Linked DNA regions of Homo sapiens: all the other regions are linked to region 1. The links come from fine-mapping of genetic effects on gene expression. A gene starts in region 1. Each other region holds a variant in brackets. All regions are shown on one strand. Distances are between the middles of the regions.

Region 1 (8,179 bases):
GAGGGAGCCCCTGACCCAAGCTGCCCATTCACGTCCTCCCCGTGGGAGATGTGAAGTTGAGGCTGTGGAATGAGAGTGCCCATCGGAGCTGGCTGCTTGAGCTGGGGAGGAATAGGGAGTGTGGGCTGGCTGGGTACATAGTTAAGCAGAGAGCAAGAGGGGGAGGAGGCAGATGCACAGAGAAAAGCAGAGATGGGAACCTGGGAATCAGAAAACAAAAGACAAAGGACAGACAGATCGACACAGACAGAGGCTGCCTCCTTCTTGCTGGCTTTCCAGTCCCTAATGTCCCTAGGTCCAGGCCTCATGAGAGTTTCCTGTTTCTCACATGAAATCCTCTTCTACTTAAGCTAGCTCCAGTAGGTTATTTTTTAATTTAATTAATTTATTTTTTTTGAGACAGAGTCTCGCTCTGTCGCCCAGGCTGGGGCACAATGGCGCGGTCTCAGCTCACTGCAACGCCCGGATTCAAGCGATTCTCCTGCCTCAGCCTCCTGAGTAACTAGGATTTCAGGTGTCCACCACTACGCCTGGCTAATTTTTTGTATTTTTAGTAGAAACGGGGTTTCACCATGTTGGCCAGGCTGGTCTCAAACTCCTGACCTCAGGTGATCCACCTGCCTCCGCTTCCCAAAGTGCTGGGATTACAGGCATGAGCCACCGTGCCCAGCCTCCAGTAGATTCTGTTGCTAATGGTCCAGAGGGATTTGACTGAGACACCACAGCACAGGGGGGATCTGTAGATTTGGTCAGTCACAATGTGAGGCTGACTCCAGGCTGCCGTTCGTGGCTGGACCACATTCTCATCCTTATCAACCCTCTTGGTGAGGACATCCAGGAGGGATATTTTCCCCCACTTTCCACCCCTGATTCTTGCCTCCCTGCTGGCCCTACTTCCTATCTTTGTCTACATGCCTTCCCAGCATCTGGGCCTCCCTGAACCTCCTGTCCTTCTGCCCTGCTGGTCCCTGATGCTAGGCAGCCCCTGTGCTCTGTTTTTCATTCCACTGGGCACTGCTGGAGAAACTCCTGGTGCAGGGCTGATGGTGTCTGCTGAAAAGCCAGGTTGGGCCATACAATCCTGTTACCTGGTCTTAGAGACTTCCCTCTAAGACTGCCCTCCTCTTGCCTCCCTGACCATCCACTTGGATGCAGCTTCTGCAAATATGCATCCTCTGCCCTGAACTGTCCCTCATCAAATGTCCCAATGAGCTCTTGTGCACACTTCTCTCTTGCTTCCAGGGGAGGCATAGCCTCCACACCCTTCAACCCCTACCCCTTCTCCACCTGTGCCTTCCGTCCTCCCAAGACCTTGGTCCTTTTCCTCCCACTCTCTCCAATCTGTTCACACTGGCTCCACCTCGTTGGGGTGACTGATTCTACCCCCAAAGACAGTTCCAGACCTCGGCCTCTCTCTAGCTCCCCACTCTTATGCAATGGCTTCCCCTGCGGTTTCCCATAACTTGTCATCAACTTGTCTTTGGGGGAATTTTAATGTGTTATATTTGGCTGATGTTTTCTGCAAAGTGTTTGGCCTTTTTTTTGGGGGGGGGGTGGGGAGGTCAGGCGCGGTGGCTCACACTTGTAATCCCAGCACTTTGGGAGGCCGAGGTGGGCGGATCACAAGGTCAGGAGATCAAGACCATCCTGGCCAACATGGTGAAACCCTGACTTTATTAAAAATACAAAAATTAGCTGGGCATGGTGGCGCATGTCTGTAATCCCAGCTACTTGACAGGCTGAGGCAGGAGAATCGCTTGAACCAGGGAGTTGGAGGTTGCAGTGAGCCGAGATCGTGCACCACTGCACTCTAGCCTGGTGATAGAGCGAGACTCCATCAAGAAAAAAAAAAAAAAAAAGGTGCTATACTTTGGGAAATGACTCTTAATTTTGATTTCAAAACTTTAACTGACTTATCCCTCCTACTTCATCAGGGCCTGGTACCTGTGACAGATCAAGTTTGCTTTCAGTCAAGCCCAGCAATTGCTATGCTAGGAAATGGGGGATTGTTATTACATATGCTATTTGTTAAGCACATCAGAGCAGGATTTGGATCCTGACTGTGCATCTTTTGGCAACTCACTTCACCTATCTAAGCCTTGGCTTTCCCATCTGTAAAAGGTGGATAATTTCTCCCTTCTGCATTTGTGTGAGATCACGTATTTAGTCCACACATGGGTAGTGAGTAACTGCTATATGCTGTGAATAAAACAGACGGACTTTAACCCAGCTTCAGGCATGAATCAAACAATAATACAAATATTTAACTACAAACCATGACAATTTGTAGGTGTAGGGAACTATGAAATTGTACATTAGGGGCACCTGGCCTGGCCAAGGAAGACAGGGCTGATTGGAAGGACAAGCAGGAAAGAAGGAGGAGGTAACTTTGTGGAAAGGCCCTTTAGGTGGGAGAGAACAGACTTGTTGCACTTTGGCTGAAGTGATGCAAGTTTGGAGAGGTCTGTGGGAGTTTTGTTATTATCCTAGAATCCCTGGAAAGCACCTAGGGCTTAATAAGGGCAGCAACATTAGCTGGGCATGGTGGTGCATGCCTGTAGTCCCAGCTACCCTGGAGGCTGAGGCAGGAGAATCGCTTGAAACCGGGAGGCGGAGGTTGCGGTGAGCCGAGATCGTGCCATTGCACTCCAGCCTGGGCAACAAGAGCGAAACTCCATCTCAAAAAATAAAAAAAATAAGGGAAGCAATGTGATCAGATCTTAGTTTTTAAGAAGCTCACTCTAGCAACAGTACTGAGAATTGCAAAAGTACTGAGGTGAGAGATGACCAGGGTGTTAGCAAGATGTAGATGGGAGAAATTTCTAGAAACTTAATTTACATGTAGGGCTAATACTCACCAATATCCAGATAAGAAAACAGAAGCTAGTTAAAAAGGTTAATTAACATGCCCAACTTCATACACTTAGCACGTGGCAGAGTTCATTTTCCTAATCATGACTCAACTGTATCCAGGGTACTGGGGACTATCATTGCCACAGCTCACAGTGTTTCTCACAGTTGTCCTGGGTTCAGGGCCAAGGCCCAAACAGTCCTCTTCTATGGGGATCTTATAGTTTACCACCCAACCTGGGTCCCCTTTGACTTGCCTGATGATAGTGTTGTTGAAGACCAGAGAGGTTGGAGCTGGGGAAAGCAGCAGAGTTTTACACAACTGTCAACGGAGTGGCCTCCTCACAGATAACAGATCCAGAATTTTCCTGGGAAATGATAACCTGAAGTCAACAGGATCTGAAAACTATAGTCCCTATTGGCCATGAATTAATAAGGAGAAAATTGGTTGGGCGAGATGGCTTACACCTGTAATCCCAGCTCTTTGGGAGGCCGAGGTGGAAGGACTGCTTGAGTTCAGGAGTTCAAGACCAGCCCGGGCAACATAGGAAGACCCTGTCTCCATTTTTAAAAATAAAAAATAAATAAATAAATAAATAATGAACAAAATTTTTCTTAAAAAAGAATAAAATCAATCACTTACTGAATGCTTACTGTGTGCTCAGTGCACATGCATTATTTAAGTACATGTAAGCTCCGGAGGCCATAAAAAGGGAGTCCTAATGCCCTTATTTCCCAGCTAGGGAACCTGAGGCTCCAGGGAGGTAAAGGAACTTGTCCAAAGTCGTACAATGAGTTACTGACAGAGACGGATACAGAACTTGAGTAGCCGTATTCACATCCAAAGCGGTATATACAGTACCAAGATGAAATCATTTGATAGTTATGAGGTCAGTTATGATGGCTAAATTCTGGGAAAAGTTATCAGTGGACCGGGTACCTCTCTTTCTATGAAAGGAGGCTGGAAGACGGAACCCCTTAAAAATCCATTCTGGCCCTGCTCCCTCGGGAAATGCTTCCTTAGTATTTTTTTTTTTTTTTATTCAAAAGCTTGACAAGCCCAGGACTAAAGTGTCTTGGCTGTCTCACACGACTGTAAAGTGGCTGGGAGAGGACCTACGTGCTCATTTTATAAATGAGAAGGGCCGGGCCGGCGTTCTCCGAGAAAAAGGTCACAGGAAAGAGTTACGTCGGGCACTATCTGTCCCTGCAAGTCCTCCGGGAGCCTCAGCTCCCAGGTCTCACCTTCTCAAGCGCTGGGAACTCGGCGGTTCCACGCAGCAGACGCGTCTCCCGGTTGCTGGGGAACCAAGCGCCGCGACTTGGTTGCTAAGGGGAAGTCAGAAGGGAGACATCCTGGGTGAAAGTTGACAAGTCACGTGACCACATCTCCGTGTGGTGAAACACTCCTTACACCAACCAGCCGTAGAGAAAACAAATGTTTCTCCAATCAGTACTTTCTATGGGCGGGGATATTCCTAGATTCACCTCTGTTCCGTCCATTTGCGTGATTGACTCGTCTTTTGTCCAATAATAGTAAGAATCCTTTAGATTGACCAATATACAGAGGAATCAAAATGCGCAGCTTCCCCTTTGGGGGCGGGCCAGGGGAGGTGCCGCCACGGCTGACAGGGACTCCGGTGACCTAGCTCGCTCCTCCGCCCAATCGGACGCTGCGGGGTGGGTGGGGGCTTTGCTGACAGAGGTGTAACGACCAATAGGAGGCGGGCTTCGTAGGTGTCCCCCAATAGAGACGCGGCAAGGGGGCGGGGCCAAAGGCCCTAAGCTCGGCGTTCCAGAGAGTGGGGAGGGGGCAAGTGTCAGTCAGGACGGGAGTCCGGCGGGTTACAGCGGAGGCCTAGGTGGCAGACAGGGGGCCCGGGCCGCTGCGTGTTGTCCACCCAAGATGGAGTTCCTCCTGGGGAACCCGTTCAGCACACCAGTGGGGCAGTGCCTCGGTAAGGCCGCGTGTGGGGCAGGAGGCTGGGCAACGGCGGCCGCTGATCCGGCTGGTGAGGACCGCGGGCCTCCGCCGGGCGCCGGTGCCACTTCACGAGCGGGCTGGGCCTCCGCCAGCCGCGGGTGCCACTCCACGAGCGGGCTGGGCATCCTGGTCGTCGGGCCTTTGCCGGGCGCTTGTGCCACCTCACGGGCGGGCTGGGCATCCTGGTCGTCTGGCCTTCACTGGGCGTCGGTGCCACCTCACGGGCGGGTTGGGCATCCTGGTCGTCGGGCGTTCGCCGGGCGCCGGTGCCACCTCCCGGGGGGGCTGGGCCTTCGCCGGGTGCCGGTGCTATCCCACGGGCAGGCAGGGCATCTGTGTCCTCGGGCCTCCTCCCGGGCACTGGTGCCACCTCACGGGCGCGCCAGTGCCACTCTGCCAGGAGGCACCCCTGAGGCCCAACTTGGACTCGGAGATGCCCCAGGCTTCCCTGCCCATCAAGGCTCAGCCCTTCCTTTTGCTGCTAGAGGTGGTGCCAACTGCTGGTCTGCTTCCCCAATGCGCTTTGGGAGATGCCACTGCATGTGTCTTTATCCAGCCCAGCAGGCTCACTGCCACTGCCCCAAGGACCCAGTTCTCCCAAACCCTTTGTGGGATGTCACCTTCTTCTCCATCTTTGTCCCTCCTCTTCGGTACCAGCAACCCTCAGACTGGGCACCCTCCCAGAAATGCCCCCTGCTCCGGGACTTGCTAATTTGAGCTGCAACTCAGCTGTGCTGTAGGAGGGACTGGGATAGGAGGAGGGGCTCTTGGAGGGTGATTATCTTGGCAGGGGGATGGCATGCCTGCAGTGCCTCCCAGGAAAGAAGGGAGGCTGTGTTATTTAATGATAAGAGCCCTGGACTGGGAATCATGGAAGCCTGGACTCTAGCAGTGGTTTTGTCAGTGACTCCATATGACCTTGTGCCCTTTCTGGTTTGAAGTTCCCCTGTCTGTCAAAGTGTTTGGAGATGAGATGTGATAGATCCCTTAAAGTTCTCAAGTTTTGATATTCTTTGTAGTACTCTGCACATTGACTGTTGCTTCCTCCCCCACCTCATATTAAGTTTACCAAAGCTGAAATCTTTTGTTGGCAATGTAGAGAGAATGGTACTCAGCATTATCTGTTAATCCTATAGGGGGGATGTGGACACCTGGGGACACCAGAGATGGCCAGAATCATGGATAAGGAAAGCCCAAAGTGTAGGTAAAGGAATACTGAAATGGCCACCATATGGGACTTCCTTACTAAGAAAGCAACTTGCCTTTTTACCCAAGGCAGTGGCTTATGCCACTTGATCAGTCAAGAATGCTGATTAGTTTGTTTGAAAACTGGATTCCTCCTGGTTGGTTGAAGGACTGGTAAAACGTCTTTTATGAGCCAGGATCTTTGGTGTTCTTATGGGCCTGATTTCAGCAGTAGTGATTTGTTTATTTTCTGCTTTGCTTATGAAATTTTAGCTTACTTTCCAGCCTTTAGTGGAGCCTATAAACTTATTGAGGTCTCTCCTGTTGGCTAATTAGCATTTAGGAGCCTTTCTTTACTTTCTGGCGTAGTATCTTTTATAATGCATGAGGGACCCCAAAAGAGTGTTTTCCCACCTTTTTGACATCTTGTCTCTTGCTGCCCACTGGAGAGTCTCTGGATTCTCACTTCCTTACTTCTTCCCCATGTCCTTTTCCACTCTCTTCAGGTGCTCTTGCATGGCAGCCACACTCCAAAAACTAATTTCCAGCCAGTTAATGGAGGGAGCCAGAAAACTTGCGAGAATTGTTTTCCTTTCTGTCCCCTTTATAATAGGAAGCTCTACACCTTTAAAATGACAAGGTAGTAAATGAGGGGTAGAAGTTAAAGGGGATTTAAAATACAAATGTGGTTGGGTGCGGTGGCTCACGCCTGTAATCTCAGCACTTTGGGAGGTTGAGGCGGGCGGATCACAAGGTCAGGAGATCGAGACCATCTTGGCTAACACGGTGAAACCCCGTCTCTACTAAAAATCCAAAAAAAAAAAGAAAATTAGCCAGGCGTGGTGGCATGCGCCTGTAGTCCCAGCTACTCGGGAGGCTGAGGCAGGAGAATTGCTTGAACCCGGGAGGCGGAGTTTGCAGTGAGCTGAGATTGTGCCACTGCACTCCAGCCTGGGCGACAGAGTGAGACTCTGTCTCAAAAAACAAACAAACAACAACAACAACAACAAAAAACCAAATATAAGAGATATAGGGATATATAGCAAGTGGAAAGAGCTTGATACTTCTGTCAGGGAGACCTAAGTTGAATTTTGACCTGGCCCCCATTTCTTGGCTGTGTGACCCCAGAAAATTGTGTTGCTTTCTGAGGTTTAGTTTGTCAGTCTTCTGAGAGAGAGAGAGAGAGAGAGAAAGATTCCTATTCACAGAGTAATGTAGTTTAAATGAGATAATGTATGAAAACACTTAGCATAGTATCTGGAACATAGTAGAAGCTCAGTAAATTGAAACTGCCACTGTTAATAACAGAATATTTAAGTTAGGGTTGGATTTTCTATCTGGAGAGGATATGTGAAACAACTGGCCCGTCTGTGACCTGTGAAGGAAAATACCCTACCAGGCCCCAGGATTCACCATTGCTCATAAGATGCTTGACTAAAGATGATGATGGCTCCCCACTGCCAGGTAGCCAATAGGTCATTTCAGTTCAGTTCAGGTAAATGATTAATGGACAGAATTAGGTTCTAATGTATATTCCGTACTGTTGTGACAAAGTGTCAAAGTGACTTTCTTGATATTTAGTGTTGTTAGTATTCTTTTAAAAGAATGTGCGGGGGTGGGGGATTGGTGGGAGGGAGGGGGAATACAGAAATAAAATAACAACTACAAAGCTAATGATTAAAAACAGCAGCTGTAGGCTGGTTGTGGTGGCTCATGCCTGTAATCCCAGCACTTTGGGAGGCCAAGGTGGTGGATCACTTGAGGTCAGGAGTTGGAGGCCAGCCTGACCAATATGGTGAAACCCTGTCTCTACTAGTAATACAAAAATGAGCCGGGTGTGGTGGTGGGCGCCTGTAATCCCAGCTATTCAGGAGGCTGAGACAGGAGAATCGCTTGAACCTGGGAGGCAGAGGTTGCAGTGAGCCAAGATTGTGCCACCGCGCTCCAGCCTGGGCGACAGAGTGAGACTCTGTCTCCAAAAAAAAAAAAAAAAGGAGAGCTGGTCCCTCTCTGATCCCTGTCCTCAATGGATTTACGGTTTCAGGAGAGAAGACAGAGATGCATGAAACAATGAGTGGTGTAGATTGTAAGTGCTGAAGGAGTCAGAAACAATTCAGAAGAGGCTGGGGTGACAGGGACTGGCTTCTTTGAGTCTGAGGG
Region 2 (8,179 bases), 77 kb after region 1:
ACTGAGGGCTCCCCAGAGCATAGGGTGATGGGTCAGGTCAGCACAGGGGCTTTGTGCCAGGGGCAGCTGCTAGGCCCACAGCTTTGTTGAATCCTGAGTTAGAATAAATTAAATTACATGTTAGACACAAGACCTACATGTAATATGTATACTTAGAGGGCTGCCTGGGAATCCTGACTCTAAGGTATAAGAGTAATTAAGGAAGAACTCACTCCAACTTCCAAACAGCTCCACTCCAACTTTTGGACAGAGCCCATTTGTGAACTGAGTACTGTCTATAATTCTGCAAGATTTTATCTGGGAATCCACCTCAGATCTGTCACCTAAAAACACAAAACTTGTTGGGTTTTAAGGAGACTCACTTAAGCTTTCTCTGGGAAAAGGAGTTCCATGGAATTCAGGAAGAGCCGGGCATCCAGGGCTCACAAGGACCTGGCACGCTCTCTTCTGTGTCTCTCATATGGTTTCTCTGGAAAAACTCTCTTCTATGTACCCACACACCAGTGGGTTAGTTAGGGTTTTGAATAAATAATACTTGCATGTGATACAGAATTCAAGAGGTCTGCAAAAAGGCAGTCCAGTGAAAAACCTCCCTCCGCCTTTGGTTCCCTTCCTTAGGGGCAGCCACAGTTACCAGGTTGTTATAGCTCTTTCTAGAGAGTCTCTTCCCTACGCTGGCACCTGTGCTATGTATGTTTGCTTTCCTTCTATAACTCAACTAATAGCAAGCTTTGTACACTGTTATGCAAAGAACTTTATGCACATGTCTTTGAGTTTGGTGTATATTGGTGCATGAGTTTCTTTATTCTTTTTTGCAGCTGCATAGTATTCCATTGTGTCAATGATTTAATTTAACCTGTTGTGTATTGATGGACATTCAGTTTGTTCCCAGTCTTTTACATTTACAAACATGCTGCAGCCAGCAAATAGTCTTGCATATATACTAGTTCACATATCTGTAGGATCGTGTCCTCAAGTGGGATTGTAAGTATCTTTATATGTCTGTTCTTTTTTCCAGGCCAAAGGATGCCATTCGAGCCCTGAAGAAGCGGCTCAACGGGAACCGGAACTACAGAGAGGTGATGCTGGCATTAACAGTGAGTGCTATTCTCCTTGAGGAGAGAAGTCATCTGGGGAACTCCTTGCTCCTGGCCTTGCCCCCCTCACAGGGCCTTCCCTCTGCCCACTTAGCACAACCTCTGAATGGCTTGGTGCCTGGGCCACTGGAGTCCAGCAAAGCCTTCTGGTATTGCCTTTGGGTTTTCCTGTCCTCTGAAACAGGGAGTGGTGAGCTTCAATTTGGTAAATGTATACGAGCAGAAGATAAGGTGTGTGCAGTGCTGTCAGGTACAGAAGCCCAGAGCAGAGGAGCTAAAGGTTTTGGGTGGGTCCCTTTTCTGTCACCAGCCTGCTCTGAGACTGAGACCAACTCCTTCTCTAGATATCAGTTTCCTCTTTGTAAAAATGTTGGCCAGGCGCGGTGACTCACACCTGTAATCCCAGCACTTTGGGAGGCTGAAGCGGGAGGATCTCAAGGTCAGGAGTTCAAGACCAGCCTGGCCAACATAGTGAAACCCAGTCTCTACTAAAAATACAAAAATTAGCCAGGCATGGTGGCAGGTGCCTGTAGTCCCAGCTACTCAGGAGGCTGAGGCAGGAGAATTGCTTGAACCCGGGAGGTGGAGGTTGCCGTGAGCTGAGATCGCACCACTGCACTCCAGCTTGGGCAACAGAGTGAGACTTCGTCTCAAAAAAAAAAAAAAAAAAAAAGTTAACTTCCACCTATTGAGTACCTGCCCCTGCCTGGGACTGTGCTGAACTTTTTGGACATTAATGAATATGTTTACAACCACCCTCCAAAAGAGATTTTACTATCCTCCCCCGTACAGATGATGAAACTGAGGCTCAGAGAGGTCTGGAGGTTTACCCAGCCTTCACAGCTAGTGAGGTGTACTGAGCTGTGGATTGCCATCATAAAGTGGTCTTTTGCATGGGGTAAAAACTGAAAATAGCTACAAAGACTCTTGAAAAAGTCAGCCAAGTGATTTTTTTCAGGAAGGAACAGACCAGATTTTTGCCCTTACCAAAGCTGTCAGAGAATTTAAAAAGACGACTTCAGGTGTTATTTCTGTCTTGAGAACTAACAGTTTTTCAGATGTGGCAAAATCTGGGCCACAGTGAGTTCTTAAAATAGAAACTGTAACAGGTCACCAGGTCAACTTCTCTGGGGCTTTGAAATAGTAGGTTATTTATCCAAAACAACCATGTTTCCTTTTAAAGCAGAGAACCTGTTTGGATTTTTTGCCCAAGCGAAACCCCAAAACTTATTAAGAGAGTTCTGCCAGGGAATTGGGATTTGAATAATAAAGGAGAAAAGACTGGTTGAGAAATAGGGAGTTGAAGCTTTTATTTTATTTTTTCTCAGAATTTGAGCCACAGCATTCACTAAACCAGGAGTGATGCCCAAAACGAGTGGCTTTCAATAACTCATATCACGAGGGAATGAGCTCTAATATATCAGGGAATTTTACTGCTATCTAAAACATCTCCATTTACACACCCAACTTCATGGTAATCGTGTTGGATGGAAATCTTTCTAAAGTGAACTCTGCGTTTACTTGCCTTCCTCTAGCAGGGCATGATGGACACTGTTTGACCTTTCCTTGGGTTAGGTCTTCACTACAAACCCAGCCATGCCTTTGGGAGGCCTGTGAAATGCGCAGGGCTGCCGTCCCTACACTGAGGCCCCATCCTAGCGCGCTTTGCATGGTCTCACGTCTGCTGATAGGGCTTCACTTACTCTCTTAGTCACTTTCAGTCCTCCTGTTTCCTGTGGCCCTCTCCGGACTTCATATCTGTACCCACCAAAATTGTTAATATTTACCCAAAATAAGTTAGTAAGAAGCCCTGAGGGGCTCTCTGCTTGTGTCTTCATTTGTGGACTTAAACATCACTTCTGATTGCTTAGAGGCCCCGTTTACTTTCTCCATGGCTTTTGGCTTCATTCTGGAAAATTACCACTGTATGTTTCATGCCTTTCAACCTATAGGGACAAAACTGCCAGGGTCCTGTTTGGCAGGGTGGCCTAAAGCGGCTCTTGCCAGCCCAGGGAGGACCTCCTAGATCTCCTGCTCAGATAGGCTTTGGGGCTGCTCTGTGGCACATGCATCTCTGTCCAGGGCACTTCCAAGACCAGGCTGGGACACACTGACCTTGAGGACTGCTGTGCAGGAGAAACTAAGCATGTATTCCCTAATGGCGGGCAGTGGTTCCTGCCACTGTTGCTCTGAGAGTGGAGTGGAGCCCCAGGCTGCTCTACTCCTCAGACCTATGCCTGTTTTTCCAATTCTCTTCCCCACTCATAATTGCAGCCTCACCTTTCCCACCTGCTTC[T/C]CACAAAATAAAGCATACTTCTTGCCATCTGCCTTGACCCCAACACCCCACTGCCTGAGTTGGGAGGAAGGTTTTAGAGAATCCTAGAGAGAAGGGTGCCTGTAAGGCCCTTGAGAACAGAAAGAACCCCTCTGGTTCATTTCAGTGCCCCCATGGATCACTACAAGAGAGTGAATGCCAATTACCTCACGGTTACCAGAATCAGGCACAAGCAGAGACTCAGAAAGGAAAATGCCTCCTTGGCTTAGTAAAACCTGTGGTCACTCAGAGGCCCTGAGGGTGCTAACCTCCAGAATCTTCCTTGGCAAGCCCAGAGGAACCCGGGGCCTCCTAAGGTGCAGCCAGCAGCAAGGCAAGGAACGATTCTGGCTGGCTGCGGAGCTGCCTGGCATGGGGAGTCCCAGCTTTGGCCTCCTAGGTTAAGTTACATGGTACCTCTGATCCTCAGCTTCCTCATCTCTAAAATGGGATGATTCCCATCTTACAGGGTTATTTCAAGGACCAAAGGGGGGAACAATAAATCTAACACATGTTGCCTGTCATCTGAGGCACTCTTAGCTGATGTGGCTGCTTGGAGGAGAGCTGTGAGGGAGGGATGGCCCTGTGGCCTCAAGGTGGGCGAGGAGACTGGGGCTCCAGAGAAGGCTAATCACAGCTCTTGTGCTCCTTCTGGCACTGACTGACAATTTGTACCTAGATCAATGTCTTCACCTTTCTAAACCTCTTAACTCTAAAACATGGGATATTAAGGTCCACTTAAGGAGAAGTAATTAGTTGTGAGAATTGGATAAAACTCCATATGTTATGGAAGGATCTCTCATAGTGCCTGGCATATAGTCGCATTCAGTCAGTGTTCCAGTTATGGACCTTTCTTTACGGCTATGTTTTGTCCAGGTAAAGCCCACTTGCTTGGACCTAGCCCTGTGGGATGGCTGCAGAAGTTAACCAGTGGTTGGATTAGTTTGGGCAAATGAGAATAATTGAGGTAGTCAGAAATGTTCCCTGTTGCTGGTGACATCGTTTTGAGGAGGCATTCCCCAGTTAGTAGACTGTGGCACTGGGGGCTGTTGGCATGGGAAGGGCCAGGTAATCCTATGGGTTGGTTTACACAGTGCTGGGAAGTTCAGAGCACTCCCAGTTGGCACCTCCGAATTCCAAGAGGCTACATACCTGTCCTATGGGAGGATAAGAGGCCATCCCCTTCGTCGTGTGTACAGCAGCCTTCTGAACAGTAATCACGTAATCATGGTCATCAGTTATTGGGCACCTCCCCTATGCAGGATACTTTGCTATGTGCATTATTTTATGCATGCATGCATGCATGTATGTATGTATGTATGTATGTATGTATGTATGTATGTATGTTTTTGAGACAGAGTTTTGTTCTGTTGCCTGAGCTGGAGTGCAATGGCGCGATCTTAGCTCATTGCAACCTCCACCTCCCAGGTTCAAGCGATTCTCCTGCCTCAGCCTCCCAAGTAGCTGGGATTACAGGCATGTGCCACCAAGCCTGGCTAGTTTTTGTATTTGTAGTAGACGCAGGGCTTCGCCGTGTTGGCTAGGCTGGTCTTGAATTCCTGACCTCAGGTGATCCACCTGCCTCGGCCTCCCAAAGTGCTGGGATTACAGGCATGAACCACTATGCCCGGCCTATGCTTTAAACGTATTCTTGCTAATCTTTCCAACAATCTTGCAAGGGAGAGCTCATCATCTCTGCTTTACAGATGAGGATGCTGAGGCTCAGAAAGATCTGTCCTGGGCCATTCAGGGAGAAAGTGGTGGAGCTGAGGTTCAAGCTCTCACTGACCGTCTGGCCAGAACCAGTATGCTGGGCTTTTCTGAGCAGCTAAAGCCTGTGTCACTTGTTTTCCCAGACAAGGGAGGAGCAGGCAGGGTCTGAATTGAACATGGACATTAAAGTCACCTGGCAGCTGAGGTCCACAAACCATTTGTCAAGAGTGGAAAATCCTTTGTCATTGCCAATTTTGGTTGCAGAAGCAGGGTTGAGTGGGGGATGTGTGTGTGCATTTGCTTTCTCACATATAAGGGCCAGTAACTCACTAAGCAATTCAAGCTGTCATAGCAGCCTCCTCTTGTGACAGAGCCCATGTCCGATTGGCTAATGCCTTATACCCAGAGGCCCAGAGAGAGGAGTTAAAATGCTAATTTTCAGGGACCGCTCAGTCATTTTGATCCCATTAAAACACTAGCATCCTTCTCATGCAAAACTGGTGCCTCAATTACCAACTAATTGCCTGATTATTGTGCAGGGACAGGAGACTTCAGTCAGTAAGGGGCTGCTGTCATCCCTGGAGAATGGAGTGTGGGAATGCGTGTGCCATGCAGGTTTGGCTCTGGAGGAGACGTGTCAGAAAGCTGATCTAGGAGCAAGACAGAGGGGATGGTGGAAACTCAGCTGCGCTCCTCAGTTCCCAGTGTCTTCTCCAGCTCCCACTGGGGTGACCCTTTTCCTTCCCTCCCCACATCAGGTGCTGGAGACATGTGTGAAGAACTGTGGCCACCGCTTCCACATCCTTGTGGCCAACCGAGATTTCATCGACAGTGTTCTGGTCAAAATTATATCTCCCAAGAACAACCCTCCCACCATTGTACAGGACAAAGTGCTTGCTCTGATCCAGGTAGGTTGGACCCCTTGCCCAATTTGTTGGAACAGAGTAAGATGAAGTCTCTTATTGATGAGTCCTCATGCTCTCCCACCATTTGGAGGAAAAAAAAAATGGAGACTTCTACATTTAAAATATTTGGTGCAAAATACTTCAAAAAAAATTCTCATCCCACTGGAATGAAATTCTAATTGATGGCTCTCCAGCCAGTTAACAGAGCCTTCCTGAAGCTTTCTGGGTGCCATCCCTCTGCTGCTCACAAAGGCAGGTAGGGTGGCCTCAACAGGCCTCTGAGAAAACTTGGAGTAGGAAGAACCATGTTAGAGCTACGTGCGGGTTTGGTGAGGTCACAGGGCAGGGGCCAACTCTGGGTCAGGCGGAGCAAGGTAAGGGGCTGGGGATGGTGTTAAGGGATGTTTCACTGAGGAGATGACATTTCCATTGGACCCTGAAGAATGATGGGGAGTTTGGTGGAAAAGTCAGTGGGAGAGACTTCACAGGCAGGGAGAATAGCATGTGCAAAGGCCCAGACGCATCAAAGAGAGCAGTTGGCATATTTGGGTTGTATTTGTTATCACTCACTGTGTTACAAATTACCTCAAAACATACCTTCAAACGGAAAATGTTCATTATCTCTTAGTTTCTGTGGGCCAGGAATTCAGGAGCAGGTGGCTGGGCAATTCTGGCTTGGAGTCTCTCTTGAGGTTGCATTGTCTGAAGGCTCGACTATAGCTGGAGGCTCCACTTCCACCATGGTGCACCCACATGGCTGTTGGCAGGAAGCCTCAGTTCCTTGATGACTATTGGCAAGAGACCTGAGTTTATCACCATGTGGACATCAAGATTAGGTCTTGATGACCTAGCCTTGGAAGTCACATACCATTTTTTTCTGTTATATTCTATTTGTTAGAAGGGAGTCACCAGGCCTAGCCTCAAGAGTAGGGGAAATAAACTCCATCTCTTGAAGAAAGGAGGATCAAATAATTTGTGGACATGTTGTAGAGACCACTATGTGGGGAAGGGGGTGTAATGAAGAATGTTGGGGGCAGGGCTTGGGGTGGGGGAGCAGGCAGGAGATGGGACCAGAAGGATGCCCAGAGGCCAGTGGCCATGCATGCTGAGGAGGCATGCTTGGTCCTGTAGGCAGTGGGAAGACATCGAAGGGCTCTGAGCTGGGATGTGTGCAGACCTGGGTTTTAGACAGAGCACGTGGTGACACAGAAGGCACATAAGTCAACAGGCACATCCAGCCTGGGTGATTAGTGCTGTGGCAGAGGCAAGACAAGGGCCTGCAGGAGCCAAGAGGAGAGACAAACCTAGGGCTGGGCGTGGGGCTCCAGCAAGGGCAAAGGGAGGCAACCAGGCAGAGGCAGCGGAGAATGCAGGAAGTGGAGTGCCGGGGCAGGCCGGGCTCTCAGATGGGTCAGGTGTGCAGCTGGAGAGGAGCCTCTGTCCATTCCCTGTGCTCACTTCCCTCTGCCTGAAAGGTCTTTCCCCAGCTTTCAGAGCAGTGACTCCTCCTCCTCATTCACAGGTGCCTCGGAGGCCTCCAGCTGGTTTTAAGCACACACACTCTCTGTCTCACATCATCCTTTTTTGTGGTCTTCAAGACTGGCTTTGCTAACATTTCTTTTGTCTGCCTCATTCTTCGTTCCCTAAGAACCCAGGGACATGCTGTCCCCAGGGTCTAGAGCAGTGTAATGTGTAGAGCGGGTGTTCAGTATTTCTTTATAATGAATGAGTGAATGTAGTTAATTCTGAGGAACTCTGGGAGGCCTTCCCCTGTTTACCCTAGGGTTGTCCCTCGTCCCTGTTCTGCCCACCCAATATCCTTCTGTCTCTCTGTCTCCCTCTGACACACACACACACACACACACACACACACACACACGTGTGCATGCACTTTACCTTCCTCATACACCCCACTCTACCACAGCCCTTCCTTCTGGGGCTGCACTCCCCTACCTCAATACCCCCAGGAATTCATGTTAGGAAAACAAATGGTGGCTTCTTCTCACAAAGCATGTCCTGTGGTAGAGCTTTCTGACCCCGAGGCCTGTCTGCAGGGTGGCGGGCCCAGCAGGGTGGCTAGCCTACCGCATGGCAAGCACAGTTATCACAAGGGGTGTGAACTGCACTGTCCCTGCTGACTGTGTGGGGAC
Region 3 (8,179 bases), 31 kb before region 1:
ACAGTAAAGAGGCAAGCAGTCCAGGCCAAGGACGATGGTGGCTTGCCTTGGTGGTGATGTCGCGACAGAGAGAAGCTGAGAAACTGGCAGTGGAGTGAATGATGCATGCACTAAAGCAGGCCCTGACAACATAGTATCTCTGTCTGGGCCCTGACAACATAGTATCTCTGTCTGGGCCCTTGATGCCCACACTCCTTCCAGAGACATAGACATGCTGCCGCGGGACCCAGCGCAGACATCCGGGAGAGCCTTCTTAGCGTGCAGACCCCAGGGATGGAGCCAGGTTCCTCAGGCCGACCCTGCTGATTTTGTGACCATTCATCAGTGGATGTGCTGGTGCAAACCGGATGGCATTGTGCAGGATCAGAAATGGTGGTTCCAACACCCCCACAGTACTCATTATACAGACTCTAAGGTTAAGAAGACCTCCAGGGGAAATCTCAGACTTCAACCTCTACCTGTAACTGCTTCTCTTAGAAAGTGCCAGAAGCCTCCACATAATTGAACTTTTGGAAACGACCCTGTTGGAAAGTTGAAACCATCTAATTATCATGAGCTCCTCTTTAACTGGGCCCCACTGGGTGCCCCACCAGGTGCTTTGTTAGCCTATTTTATCTGCCAGCAACCCTGTAAAGCAGGTTAGTGTGCCCTTTTGCAGATGAGAACACTGAGGCTCTGGGAGGTTGTCAGGCTTACTCACAGAGCCTCAGTCCAGCCACAGAGCTGGGCTGGACCACATCTGTCAGGCTCCGAGCAGCCCGCCCCGCCTACCGCGCGCAGGTCGTTAGGCAGGTCCTCGTCCAGGTCGCCCTCGACAATCTTCTCCAGGGTGCTGATAGAGATCTCCAGGAGCTTCTCGTGGTGGTGATTCTCCAGGTCCCGGCACTGAGCCATCGTGCAGCCCCGAGTTAAGCAAAGGCCCGGGAGGAGCAGGCCCGGCGCGTCCCTGATGCTCTCAGACGGCGGGAGACAGACTTTAAGGGCCCAAGGCGAGCTCGGAAATTCTGGCTGGCAGCACCGTCCACTCACAAGCTCCGAACCCTGGGCCTTCCTCGACTCCCTGCCCCTGCCCCACACCTCGGACGGACCCTCGGCCCCTGCCATCACACTCTTCTCTCCCTCCTGCATGGAGGCTCCTGGCCTCTGGGTTAACTGCTTCTCACCCTGTGCATTTGGCACCACTTGTTGCCTCTACAACTTGTCTCCCTGAGGGACTGTGAGCCCCAGGAGGGCAGGACCACAGGGCTGCTGCTAGCTGGAGCACAGCAGTTTGCCCCATGTGGAGTGCCCTGAGTTCGGGTGGAAGAAGGGTTGGCCATGCTCCGATGTTGGCTCCTCACCCTAACATTTCACCTGATGTACTCCTTATAGTGTCTTCCACGTGGGGGTTGCCTCAACCCCAGAGTGTGCTTGCCTGCAACACAGGGGGCGTCATTTCCTAGTGAACATCACTCATATGAGAACAATCATGCTGGGAGCCTACTGCAAACAGTTTGGATGTTGTCCCTCTGGGCATCCAAACCACAGCTCTAACCAGGCCATCATTGTTCTGAGGGTCGGGAAACCTCCTCAGACCCTGTGGAACATTCTTTTGTCCAGAGGCCGGGACAAGCCCAGGGGCTCTGTAGCACCTCCCCATGGGGAAGGTCATCACAGAAAGGATATAGGCTTTGGACATTTTCGATAAACAGTCCTACCATGTCAACAATGTTCCTTTCAAACATGTTTATAGTCTCCTGGAAATGTTAAAGAACACAGTTAACATGCATATTTAGATGTCCAGCACAGAGCAAAAGGTACTCCTCAAAATTTAGCAACCAGCTCCTCTAATCACAGACCTTCAGCATAAAGACCACCCATCTTGACCCTCCTGAGCAGATGGTTGTGAACTGACCCCTCTGCTCTCTCTAAAGTTGTTGTTCTCCAACCATATTAACTCCCTCACCATCTGAATGTTTAATGCTGTCACCGGAACTTTGCCAGGAACACTTGTCCTGGTCTTACTCCCCTTACCTGCCTGCCCAACACACACACACACAGCCAACCCCCTCTCCTTTGGGTTTCCCAGTGACATCTGTGCATCACCTCCAGGGAAACAGTGGAGTGAGCTGTTAAGAGCTAGACTGCCTGGGTCAGTATTCCCAGCTCCAGCACTCTGTGTAACTCTGGGAAAGGCATTTCACCTCCTTGGGCCTTATCTTCCTCATCTGGGAAATAGGTTACCTGCATAATCCCTGCGTTGTGGCGTTGTGGTGAGGTTAAATGAGTCACTTCACACAAAATGCTTTGCAAGGTGCCTGACAGAGAGGAGGCCCTCAGTAGGAGCGGGCTGGCACTCCAGATCTCTTTCAGTTAGTTGCTGTTTTGTGGTGCTTAGCAAGGCACCTAAGGCCCAAATGGGAGTTAGTGTTGATTGAAGGAACAATGGAAGATGTGATCTCCAGGCCTGCCACTCTCGGAGTGCCCCACTCCCATCTGCTATAGACTCCAGGGGCTGCAAGGTGGGCAGGGGTGGAATCTATAGGAATGTGAGTACTGTCTGCAGAGTGAGCACCTCACATAATTTTCAAACACATGTATGTGCTGTTCTCGTGAATAAAAATAGGGTCATTGAAAAGCATGATTGCGCTTGTGGCTTTCTGGCCACCAGTAATACAAGTAGGATGGCACATGGGTTCTGGGAAATGTTTGGATGTTGAAAGGCAATCTCCGTGCCTGAAAAGGCTGGGAGCTGCTGCCTCACTCGCCCCTGGCACTGTGCGCTGCTTCTGCAGTGCCTGTGCTCTCCAGCAGGGAGGGAGCACCTGCCCTGTGATGTGATGGGGAAATCTATCCCATGTCTGAGGTGTCACTTGACGTGTGAGGAATTGATTAGGTGCTATCACTTGGCCCAGCCACAGCAGCATCCGATGAGGTTCAATTCATCACACCACTTCAGACTCCCAGCCTCCGCTGCCTTGTAACACATACTCTGGCTGCTAATGAATTTCAGACAGCGGCGCTTTTCATTTTCACTACTTAGTGCTGAGTTGCAGCCTCCTCACGTCACCTGAGAAGCGGCAACTGCAGGCTGCAATGCGGAGGGGTCTTTGTTTGGTCCCCAAGTGGGGGTGCGCTTTGCCTTTAGAGTACCCGGATAGCTCCAGGGGTCTAATCAAAAACCTCTCCCCACTGACTTCCAGGATAGGGGGACCATTTCAGAAGAATGAGCTCACCTCTCATTTTCCACAAGAATCACTTCCAATGTAAATGATTAAAATGTAATAAAAGCAAACAGGACTGATGAGCAAGAAAGCTACAGCCTGCCACGCTGAGTCGTGCTGGACGTTTCCAGCAGAGGCGTGCCCATGAAGGCTACAGTTCACCTATGGATGTGCAGCTGCATCGCCAGATTCTGGCACTTGTGCCCAGGGCCCAGCCTTACCTCCAGCTGCTCCACCAGCTGCATCTCCAGCGTCATGAGC[G/A]CATCGAACAACTCACTGATGTCAGCACTGCATTCTAGGATCATCTTCTCAATGTTGGGCAGTTCCAACTCCTCTCGAATGGCACTTAAACTCTAGAAACAATAGACTGCACTTTAGGAATCAACAACTAAGTGTAATTAGATAATGGCAGGTGGCAATTTGGTTTTGTGGGTAAGAATTTGGACTCGAGTCAGCCTGCCCAAGTGCAAGTCTCAGCTTTGCCATTTGCTGGCTCTGAAAGCGTGTAGAAGCTACCTACCCTCTCCATGCCTCAGTTTCCTGGTCTGTAAAGTGCGATTGATAGCCCCTACCCTTGACACAAGTGAGAGAACACATGTGAGGCTCTTTGAGCACTAGCAAGTGCTCACTCCCTGTAAGCTCAGGTTTTTATTAGAGGCTGGTAGGCAGGGTAGAAGGAGCCATGGCTTTCATGGGGTTCAGAGCATTTCACACCAAAATATGCCGCTTTGGCATAGTGATTATTTTGAGTTAAAGATACTTAAAGGCCGGGAGCAGTGGCTTATGCCTGTAATCCCAGCACTTTGGGAGGCCGAGGTGGGTGGATCATGAGGTCAGGAGATTGAGACCATCCTGGCTATCACAGTGAAACCCCATCTATACTAAAAATACAAAAAAAAAAAAAAATTAGCCAGGCATGGTGGCGGGTGCCTGTAGTCCCAGCTACTTGGGAGGCTGAGGCAGGAGAATGGCGTGAACCTGGGAGGTGGGGCTTGCAGTGAGCCGAGATTGTGCCACTGCACTCCAGCCTGGGCGACAGAGTGAGACTCTGTCTCAAAAAAAAAAAAAAAAAAAAAAAGATACTTAAAAACAGAAAATGCAAAGAGGACACCCTGACCTCCCTTTTTCTTCCTGAAAGCAGAAGTTAAATCTCCCATGGGAAAGGTGCCCTCCCTGTACCAGGAGGAAAGAAACCATTCTTTTTTTTTTTTTTTTTTTTTTTTTTTTTTTTAAAGACGTAGTCTCACTCTGTCACCCAGGCTGGAGTGCAGTGGTACGATCTCGGTCACTGCAACCTCTGCCTCCTGAGTTCAAGCAATTCTCTGCCTCAGTCTCCTGAGTAGCTAGGATTACAGGCACCTGCCATTATGACCGGCTAATTTTTTTTGTATTTTTAGTAGAGACGGGGTTTCACCATCTTGGCCAGGCTGGTCTTGAACTCCTGACCTCATGATCCACCCACCTCGGCCTCCCAGAGTGCTGAGATTACAGGTGTGAGCCACTGTGCCCAGCCAAGAAGCCATTCTTATCATCAGAGGGAGGGAGTCCGGGCCAAGGGGAATCTGTGTGAACAAACCTTGTTAAACTAACGCTCATCTGCCTTGTCACTTCTCCACGATGAACTGCCTTAGCCCAAACCTCTTTGTCTTGTCACGTTCTCACAATTCACTACTCTCTGTCCAACTAAGTATATAAGCTTTCGGCCCTAACGGCTTCTTGAGCCTTCATTTTGCTTGTGAATGCTCCCATGTACATGTACAAATTACTCAATAAAATTTGTATGCTTTTCTCGTTTGTCTTATGTCAGTTTAATTCTTGGTCCCAGTCAGTGACCCTGATAAGCTAGAGGAAAAAATTTACCTGCCTTACAACTTCAGAGTTAGGTGAACCTGAATTTGAATCCTGCCTGGGTCACTTAACAGTGTGACCTTGAGAGACCCACTTTCATTCGCTGACTCAGTTTCCTCACTGTAAATGGGGAGAAGCATCTCTGCCTCACGGGGTCCTGGGGATCAGAGGCCGTGTACAGGAAGCACCTGGTGCACAGTGGAGCTCGGCTACCGGAGTCTCCTATAAAAGGCCTATCACAGGCACAGGCCAGGAAAGACCCTGGCAAGGAAAGACAGTTCCAGTCTTTGAGGAGATGAATTGAACCCACACAGAACCCCAGTGAGCAAGTGGAAGCTACTGCTAAATAGATGCTGAGCCCTTTGGAATGAGGGGGTGCTCAGAGGGTATATGGCAACCTGGGGTCCAAACAGCACTGACTACCAGCTGCTTACTAGCAAAGGGCCTGGGTTACCACCAACACCAGATGTGATTTTGGCTTGTTTTTGTTGATGCCTGGTATTAGTCATGAAGGAGGATGGAGTAACAGCATGATTGAAGGGGGCGAATGACATAATAATAGCTACCCTGTCTGGAGAAAAACCAGGCTCGATCCCTACCTCAAGCCTTACATGAAAACAAATTCCTGATGAAGATTCAAATGTAAAAAATTAAACCATAAAAGTGCTAGCAGAAAACCTGGGAGATTTTTTTTTTCTTTGAGACAGAGTCTCACACTGTCACCCAGGCTGGAGTGCAGTGACGTGATCTTGGTTCACTGCAACCTCTGTCTCCCAGTTTCCAGCGATTCTCTCGCCTCAGCTTCCCAAGTAGCTGGGATTATAGGTGCCTGCCACCATGCCCAGTGAATTTTTGCATTTTTAGTAGAGATGGGGTTTCACCATGTTGGCAAGGCTGGTCTCAAACTCCCGGCCCTCAGGTGACCCGCCCGCCTTGGTCTCCCAAAGTGCTGGGATTACATGCATAAGCCACTGCGTCCGGCCAAACCTGGGAGATTTTTAACAAATAATCTGAGATCTTGCCAAATATAACCAGAAGATTGGTAAACTCTACTACCTTAAAAATTTTTTAATTCTTTTAAATTTATTTATGTATTTACTTTTAAGATGGGGTCTTACTATGTTGCCCAGGCTGCTCTCAAACTGCTGGGCTCAAGCGATCTTCCTGCCACAGCTTCCCGAAGTGCTGGGATTACAGTTGTGAACCACCTCCCCCAGCCAAAAAAATTTTTCATTCTGAATGGCAAAAGCACCACAGACAACATTGCAAGATAAAACACAAACCGGGAAAAATATTTGCCATTCATTTCACTGACACAATCTACAAAGAGCTCCTACAAAGTAATAACATTTTTTTTCTTTTTTTGAGACAGACTCTCACTCTATTGCCCAGGCTGGAATGCAGTGGCATGATCTTGGCCCACTGCAACCTCCACCTCCTGGGTTCAAGTGATTCTCCTGCCTCAGCCTCCCAAGTAGCTGGGATTACAGGCATGCATCACCACCCTGGCTAACTTTTGTATTTTTAGTAGAGACGGGGTTTCACCATGTTGTCCAGGCTGCTCTCGAACTCCTGACCTCAGGTGATCCACCCACCTTGGCCTCCGAAAGTGCTGAGATTACAGACGTGAGCTACCACGCCCAGCCAGGTAATAACTTTTTAAAAAAGAAAGGTCTGGTCTGATGGTAGTAGGTTATGAGAACTTATTAAATTTGGTGTCACTGAAGTTGGTATACAGTCTCCCACTGCTAAATTTGACTAGCTAAAAAAAAAAAAGAAAGAAAAAGAAAAAAAGAAAGAAACAGCCAGGTGTGGTGTTGTGTTCCTGTAGTCCCAGCTACTCAGGAGGCTGAGGCACGAGGATTGCTTGAGCCCAGGAGTTCAAGGCTGCAGTGAGCTATAATGGTGCACTGCACTCCAACCTGGGCAATGGAGTTAGACCCTATTCTGAAAATAATAATAATAAATAATTTAAGAAGAGAGAGAGAAACCAAAAACCAAATAGAAAAGTGGGCAAGGGCAAAATATAAGTACAAATAATTCACAGAATAAAAAACACAAATGGTTGTAAAACATGTAAAACGTGTTGCTCATCCCCACTTAAGAGAAAATAAATGCATACTCAGGGTGCACAGATTGGCAAACATGAGGAAGCCTGTGACACTGGCCTGATGACGGCTGTGGAAGGTACAGGTTCTGTAGGTTACAGTTGGACAATAACCATGAAAAAAACCAATGCACAGTTCCACTTCTAGGACTTCATCCTGCAGGTCAAACTTGCACCAACTTATTCAGTGGAACACTAAAAGAGCAAAAGGTTGGGAAAAAACCTAACTGTCCATCAACAGGGACTGGCTAAATAATTATGGCTCACCCATGCAATGCGATATTTTAGCTATAAAAAAAAGAAGCTACTTTTTCATTTTGGAAGGCTCTCCAAGATGCATAATATAGGAAAGCAAAGTACAGAACAAGGCATGCTATGCACACACACACACACACACACACACTCACGTGAAAGCAAAGTACAGAACAGGGCATGCTATGCGCGCACACACACACACACACGAAAGCAAAGTACAGAGCAAGGCATGCTATGCACACACACACACACACACACTCACGTGAAAGCAAAGTACAGAACGGCATGCTATGCACACACACACACACACAGAGGAAAGCAAAGTACAGAACAGGGCATGCTATGCATACATGTACACACACATAGGAAAGCAAAGTACAGAACAAGGCATGCTATGCTCACACACACACACACACACACACACACACGAAAGCAAAGTACAAAACAGGGCATGCTATGCATACACGCACACACACATAGGAAAGCAAAGTACAGAACAGGGCATGCTATGCTCACACACACACACGAAAGCAAAGTACAGAATAGGGCATGCTATGTGCGCGTGTGCACGCACGCACACACACACACACAGAGATACAGGAGTAGGAGGGAGACCGTATCCCCCAGTGGCCATTCTTCAGGCTGTGCCATGTGCACACACTACTCATTCGAGAGTGCAGCTGACTACACACAGACATGCTGTCATCCTTTTGGGCTGACTCTGCTCCAGGCCTTGCACAAGTGCTTTCCCTCTCTGTTTCTCACT

Alleles and levels. Positions count from the first base shown, and alleles are read on the strand shown. Sizes are in standard deviations (SD) of each study's normalised expression.
As copies of C replace T in region 2, the expression in left ventricle of the gene that starts at base 4,208 in region 1 goes up (large effect, 0.80 SD a copy in GTEx).
For the expression in esophagus mucosa of the gene that starts at base 4,208 in region 1, G is the low allele of the variant in region 3 and A is the other (large effect, 0.91 SD a copy in GTEx).

Evidence for each region. PIP is the estimated chance that this variant, and not a neighbour inherited with it, causes the effect. A credible set is the group of variants that fine-mapping cannot tell apart.
Region 2: its variant is the best candidate, but not a certain one, in a credible set for the expression of DRC3 in left ventricle (GTEx, PIP 0.60).
Region 3: its variant is the best candidate, but not a certain one, in a credible set for the expression of DRC3 in esophagus mucosa (GTEx, PIP 0.60).

The regions. Positions count from the first base shown.
Region 1 is chr17:17,968,891-17,977,069 of GRCh38, reverse strand. It overlaps DRC3 (dynein regulatory complex subunit 3), which reads right to left and starts at 4,208. Exons shown (of 14, transcript NM_031294.4): 1 at 4,096-4,208; 2 at 3,108-3,218. It overlaps TOM1L2 (target of myb1 like 2 membrane trafficking protein), which reads left to right and starts at 4,670. Exons shown (of 15, transcript NM_001082968.2): 1 at 4,670-4,808. The coding sequence starts at 4,757. RefSeq lists enhancers at 3,917-4,236, 4,608-5,177 and a silencer at 4,917-4,966.
Region 2 is chr17:17,891,514-17,899,692 of GRCh38, reverse strand. TOM1L2 (target of myb1 like 2 membrane trafficking protein) reads left to right here. Exons shown (of 15, transcript NM_001082968.2): 3 at 1,019-1,097; 4 at 5,883-6,032. Among named protein-coding and RNA genes, the nearest start is that of SREBF1, 59 kb to the right of the region's middle. RefSeq lists an enhancer at 1,890-1,939. The variant T/C (reference allele first, on the strand shown) is at 3,394.
Region 3 is chr17:17,999,740-18,007,918 of GRCh38, reverse strand. DRC3 (dynein regulatory complex subunit 3) reads right to left here. Exons shown (of 14, transcript NM_031294.4): 10 at 3,425-3,556; 11 at 1,666-1,736; 12 at 772-895. Among named protein-coding and RNA genes, the nearest start is that of DRC3, 31 kb to the right of the region's middle. The variant G/A (reference allele first, on the strand shown) is at 3,465.